2 linked regions of the Homo sapiens genome follow. The protein of the gene in region 1 purifies or fractionates together with the protein of each later gene. This does not show direct contact. Each region holds a gene or a part of one and is shown on either strand. Other genes may lie near its edges.

The links. Proteins that work in one complex are often made in the same cells at the same time.
Region 2: the proteins of GUCA1C (region 1) and SERPINA10 purify together in Homo sapiens (affinity purification with mass spectrometry; one large-scale study listed by BioGRID and IntAct). This does not show direct contact.

The regions. Positions count from the first base shown.
Region 1 is NC_000003.12:108,912,380-108,915,879, forward strand, and holds part of GUCA1C (guanylyl cyclase-activating protein 3), read right to left. Parts: intron 1-3,500. UniProt on the Homo sapiens protein: Stimulates guanylyl cyclase 1 (GC1) and GC2 when free calcium ions concentration is low and inhibits guanylyl cyclases when free calcium ions concentration is elevated.
Region 2 is NC_000014.9:94,283,269-94,286,768, reverse strand, and holds part of SERPINA10 (protein Z-dependent protease inhibitor precursor), read left to right. Parts: intron 1-510; coding exon 511-661; intron 662-2,612; coding exon 2,613-2,804; 3' UTR 2,805-3,500. UniProt on the Homo sapiens protein: Inhibits activity of the coagulation protease factor Xa in the presence of PROZ, calcium and phospholipids. Also inhibits factor XIa in the absence of cofactors.

The DNA.
Region 1 (3,500 bases):
CCTGACTTGTCTTGTTGTCTTCTCTGTTTTCATTTTTGAATAATATTGAATGTTTAGCTTCAATTTTTTGCCTCTGTCTCTTCAAGCTCTCTTTCCTGATGCTTTTGTTCGTAATATAAAAATAAAACTAATTTGTTAAATTATAACAATAATATGTCCTCATGATTAAAAAAATTGAATAATACAGAAAGATGTAAAGAAAAGAAAAAAATTGCCCTTTAACCTCTTTCTGGCACCTGGTCTGATTTCCCAAAGGTAATTAACTCCTGCTAACTGATCCAGGTTTATATTTTATGAAGTTTTTAACATATATACATGTATTTGTTAATTTCAAAAAAAAAAAAAAATTCTAGATACCTTTCTTCCTATAGACAGAATTGCATATTGTTTCTTGATTTAATCTTTTCTTTATTTCTTACATGACATCTTCTTAGCAGACACTCTTTCATTTCACAGTTATTTATAGAGCACCTACTGTGTGCCAGCATAGGAAATATCAAAGTAAACAAAACGGAAATGGTTCTGGCCTTTGTGGAGCTCATAGCTCTTCATCTTGTTATAAATCTAGCATTAATCCTGTACCTTTATTTTGCTTAACCTTCTAACTTTGATTTGCTATTATGAGAATTATGTTTAGAATATTTCACAACTGTTGTGTATTTTTCTGTCACAACAGATGTGATGTTGACCATTCTTTTGCAAACAATTAACAATCAAATTGGGATTTTCATATGCATACCTAAAGTCTTTTTAGTTGTATCTTTGTGTGCTGTGATCATCTTTACTTTTGGTTTCAATATTCATTATATTATCGGCATAATGATGTGCTTGCTTTTTATTTTGAGAAATAAATATATATATATATATATGTCAGTGTACAGTCAACAGCATTTTGGTATACTTAATTGAGCATCTCTATTTCTATCAATGCTGATGTTTTGATAACAATGATAATGAACAATAAAAAATTATATTTGAGGTATACAGAGTTTAGCTTTTACAAATGTGAATAGACATTCTCCTCTGTGGTGCTAATTCCCCCTTTATTTGTAAATGAAGCACTTCATATTATTCTTCTCTGTCAAATACTGGCCAAATCCTTTTGTACTTCTGCAAATATCAACCTTTTATGTCTTCATCACTTTTTCTTCCTTGTCTTTGATTACACTGGGCTGTCTCTGTTCACCAGCACATTTGTTAACATCTTTTTCTTGATGTATGGAATGATCCAGCTGTCTCATGATGAAACGATGTAACAAATGTCAATAATTTTTATACAAAAGCAAGTTCTATCAGTTTTAGTTCTGTATATGCATTTGCTAAGAAATAGCGATTCATAGGTACTCCAAAGTGTATATAGATGTGGATGTGCGTATATTTTTTTTACTTAAAATACAAGTTTTTGGGGCTGGGCACGGTGGCTCACACCTGTAATCCCAGCACTTTGGGAGGCTGAGGAGGGTGGATCACAAGGTCAGGAGTTCGAGACCAGCCTGGCCAATATGGTGAAACCCCGTCTCTACTAAAAATACAAAAATTAGCTGGGCATGGTGGGGGGAGCCTGTAGTCCCAGCTACTTGGGAGATTGAGGCAGAAGAATTGCTTGAACCCAGGAGGCGGAGGTTGCAGTGAGCCGAGATCACACCACTGCACTCCAGCCTGGGTGACAAAGCAAGACTCCATTTTAAATAATAATAATAATAGTAATACAAGTTTTTATAAGAGGAAACAATTAGTGTATTTAGTTTTATAAACTATTCTAGAAACCATAATTCATCTCCTTTTTTCTGTCGCTGACTTATTGTTGTAAGTGAAAGAGCTCATCTCTCTAACTTCAGGTAACCTCAGCTATTGCCCAGGCACAATTTCTCTTTTCTGAATTCACGTCTCTTTTAACCCAGCCCTTTCTACTTCAAGTTCCTTTCTAATCACAGTCCCCATTTTATCGATTCCTTATACTTTGCCCTTGGGGAACCTTCTTGGATAGTAAACAAAAAGTCCTGAATCATATTCATGTTTTCTCGAATACACTATCTGTGTCCTCAAACTAATAGAATCTTAGTGTTTTCCTAAGAATACCAAAATCTTCGTACTTCTCCGAGGAAGGTCACTTTCCTATTCCCCTCACTCCTAGCACTAGAAGCAGTGTTCATGGATATTATTAAACATTCTTGACCTGCCCTTTTGAAAGTCACTGTATAAACCAAGTCTTAAAACTTTGTGATGTCCCATCTACTTCCGGAGTACTCATTCTTCTACATCAGTGCTTTCAGCCCCAGGCTGAAATGGATGATTTACTCTACTCCAATCCCTGCCATCCTGCAGCACCTCTAAGATTAAAAACAAAGTGAAACAGAATAAAATCTACAGCATTTCTCCAGTTCGATGACCACGATTTTCAGTGGCATATTCCAAATAAAGTCTTCATTGTCCTCATCAGACCCTCCACTCTCCATTTCTCTGGTCCTTTCCTGGCTGCACGTAGCCTCCTTATCTACTCTGGGTAGTCTGACTCTGTTTCTTACAAGCTTTCACATGTACTGACATGTTTCATTATTTGATGTCAGTATACTAGTAAGTGAGCATACTGAATTGAGATTCAGGAGAGGCAGATCTACACCGAGGTGCTTAAGAGAAGAAGATTGATGCAACTGATGCATCTTCAAATTTCTTTCTTGAGCAGTATACTCTTGTCCAGTCGTTTGGCTTTTTTGCAGCAGTGGCTGCATTTGAGCTTCCTCCCGGCCTCACCATCCCATCCTGCCACGCTGAGCTGCCACATTTTACTAGTACAACCTGTCACACTCAACATGGGAACATGTGTCTCTACTGCCCTCTTGTGTCCACCAGAAGAAGTGATGCATGGTGGGCAGGTTGATGCCTTTGGAAGGAGTTTTGGAATGATGACAACTGTGATTGGCATGCCAATGCCTCTTATCCGTTTTCTTAAACCTTTTACTAATATCCTATATTTTTAACAATGTCAAATTTTCTGTTTTTCAAGGACCATTCCTAGATCTTCTGCCTCAATCTCAAGTCTTTATGCTCACCTACCTGTTTGCTGATATCAAAGCTACATGGTAGAAGCACTCATTTCTCTTGGGCTGTCTGTGTCTTCTCTCTTCACTCCTACCTCTGAAGAAGAAAGGTACCTCCTCTGAGCTAAACAGGAACCCAGATTACAGAGTAGAAAGAGCAGATGGAGAAATAATCAGAGCAGAAATGTAGATAGAAAAGGTAGAAAAAGCAGAAATGGAGGCAAGTGTGGACTCTTCTCCAGAAATGTTTAGTCCAAAGGAAGAAAAAAGCCTGATAGTAGAAGAAGATAGCATAAATGAAGGAAAGTTTTCTGCAGTAGGGAAAACTTGAGTTTATTTATAAGCTCAAGTTTTCTGTTACTGGAGAGTTTTCCTCTCCAGTGGAGAGGAACTGATTAATAGAATGTGTCTCAGAGCAAACAGCAGAAGGTACTTACTTCATCCTATATTATTCTGATTTAT
Region 2 (3,500 bases), on another chromosome or scaffold:
TGAGCCACAGAACTCATCTTTTCAAGCAACATATTTTCAAAGGAGGACTCCAGTATACAAAATAGATGGTATCAGAGCTTCTCTGGCTAAAGACGGGTAGGGGTTGAAAGTTTTCTTTGCTCCCCTCCCCATCCATCCCCAGACTCCTCGGGTCTGCAGAATCCAGGAGCTGAAAACAGCCATCATCCAGGAGGCTGCAGGACTGCTGAAAGCAGCTGTTAACTCAGGTTTTTTTTAAAATATAGGGAAATGAACACATAAGTACTTTGCTAAAGAAAACGTGAGTCACTGGCTGAGGAATAAAACTCATTCACTGAAGCTGAAGTACTATTTGATAAGCTAGAAATATTTTCCCTGAGTAGACCACTGTAAAAGAATGGCATGAACTACATAGTCAACTGAAAGACTCATTAATGGAAATAATCTTAAAGAACAAAAATTGTGACCTTTTTGGTGTCCACAGACTAGGGCTTTGTCTACATTTCACCATCATCTGTTCTTGTACCACAGAAACATGGAAGTTTTCTTTCCGAAGTTCAAGCTAGATCAGAAGTATGAGATGCATGAGCTGCTTAGGCAGATGGGAATCAGAAGAATCTTCTCACCCTTTGCTGACCTTAGTGAACTCTCAGCTACTGGAAGAAATCTCCAAGTATCCAGGGTAAGTCAGGATCTTTCATCAGAGCCCAACCTCAGCATGAAATGTCACCAAAACAAATGCTTTTACAAACCATTTAACTTTGATAAAATACCTAATTGTAGTGGAAAATTAGATTTAAGTCCCAAATACTTGAAATAGCACCCAGGTTGGATGTTTTAAGAATTTCAAGCAACTTCATTAAAATAACTTTTCAACTAATTTATTTTAAGCAGACCTCTCCCCCTCTGCTTAAAGTGCTCAGGGAGAAATTTGACCCTGAAATAGAACTGGTTTACAGAGGCATCATCATTTATGTTGAATACAACTTGAATAGTTCATGAAATTACACCACCTTTACAATGAAACAAACCCCTAGACATCATCTAGCCCAACTTCTCCCTCCTTGTGGAAATCCCCTCCATAGCCCTACGAAATAGCCCTCCAACTTCTCTTCCTCTTCATGCTTCCAGTGACATCAAACTCACCATTTCTTTGAAGAGCTGCCCAATCCACAAATAGCTAAAATTGTTATATGTATATATATATATGTGTGTATATATATGTATATATGTATGTGTGTATAAATGTATATGTGTGTATATGTGTGTGTGTATATATATATACACACACATATATATATATATGGAGAGAGACATACATATATATATGGAGAGAGAGAGAGAGAGAGTCCTGTAACTTCTGATTCATACTTTTTGGTCCTAGTTCTATCTCTAAAACTTCTAAGAACAAGTTTAGTCACCATCCACATAGAATCCCTTCAGTTACTCAGTGTTTCTCAGTGGAAGGGTTCTTGGTTTTGAGGGGAACTGCTTGTTGTCCAGAGCAGTTGTGCATGTTGCAGGGAACTGGTTAGCATTGCTGGCCCATGTTCACTAATGCCAGTAGGAAACTCCAGTCATCACTATAAAAATGCTCCCACACATTTCCAAATGGCAGCTACATCTCTCTACATTCTTCCTTAGCTGTGTGGTTTAATATTTTCTTATACAATTGCAATTTTCAATTCCAAGAGAGACTAAAAATGGCATCCACTTAAGTAGGACACAGTAGGGTAACTGTGGCCTGGAATCAGGTCTTACAACCTCAAGAGAGGTAAGACAATTAAATAAAACAATCCGTCAGACCAGCACCTGAAAGTGTTTCTGCTATGAACACATGAAAAACTGAAATGCGCTGCTGCTTTATGAAGGGTCATCATGAAATTTAAACTGTAAATGATTAAATATTCTCCCTCTGTTTGCTCTGGGGAATTAATTTTCCTCTAGGAAATCAGGGAATTTCCTGGAGTGAAAATCAGTGTAATTACATGTTATGTTTTCATTATCTCTTATAACACAGTAATTATATAGGTACATCACTCATATCACATCTTGTTTCTGTAAAAAAGGGCCTCCCAAACATAGCAAGCAGCCACAGTATAGGCAGCCAGAATTCAGGAAGGCTCCAGGGACCCCTGGGCTTGGCCCAGAAAAATGCCTCAGAGTAGTACCAGGTGCTGGGAAGCTGCTACAGAAGACTAGCCATTCCCTGCCTCCACCTTGCCTGCCAAAAGGAAAGTCAGAGGACTCAAGGGATCCAGGGATCAAGGGATCCAGGCAGCTTGAAAACCTTTTAGGAGCACCAGCTCAGCTCAAGAATTAGTAGCATAAATTACATGCTCAATAAAGATTTGATGCATGAGTGCATCCTGAGTCCATGCCCGGAATGTGTTTCACATATTCCACAATACTTCACATTGGGTTCCTGAGGTCTCCTGGTATTGTTTAAGACTCCTGTGGCAGTCCCTGGTGCAACCCCAGACCACTCCTCTTAACGTAGATGGGCCTGCTCCACTAAATCCCAGGAGCATGACCCCATGGGTAGGACCACTGTGAAGAATTTCAAGGGGCTCATTTAATTCCTCCTTTGCACTGCCACACAAATGGTTTTTCACATTATTTCCTTTTTCCAGGTTTTACAAAGAACAGTGATTGAAGTTGATGAAAGGGGCACTGAGGCAGTGGCAGGAATCTTGTCAGAAATTACTGCTTATTCCATGCCTCCTGTCATCAAAGTGGACCGGCCATTTCATTTCATGATCTATGAAGAAACCTCTGGAATGCTTCTGTTTCTGGGCAGGGTGGTGAATCCGACTCTCCTATAATTCAGGACACGCATAAGCACTTCGTGCTGTAGTAGATGCTGAATCTGAGGTATCAAACACACACAGGATACCAGCAATGGATGGCAGGGGAGAGTGTTCCTTTTGTTCTTAACTAGTTTAGGGTGTTCTCAAATAAATACAGTAGTCCCCACTTATCTGAGGGGGATACATTCAAAGACCCCCAGCAGATGCCTGAAACGGTGGACAGTGCTGAACCTTATATATATTTTTTCCTACACATACATACCTATGATAAAGTTTAATTTATAAATTAGGCACAGTAAGAGATTAACAATAATAACAACATTAAGTAAAATGAGTTACTTGAATGCAAGCACTGCAATACCATAACAGTCAAACTGATTATAGAGAAGGCTACTAAGTGACTCATGGGCGAGGAGCATAGACAGTGTGGAGACATTGGGCAAGGGGAGAATTCACATCCTGGGTGGGACAGAGCAGGACAATGCAAGATTCCATCCCACTACTCAGAATGGCATGCTGCTTAAGACTTTTAGATTGTTTATTTCTGGAATTTTTCATTTAATGTTTTTGGACCATGGTTGACCATGGTTAACTGAGACTGCAGAAAGCAAAACCATGGATAAGGGAGGACTACTACAAAAGCATTAAATTGATACATATTTTTTAAGATGTTTGTGCAATCTGTCTGGTATTTTAAGCTTGTTTCTAAGA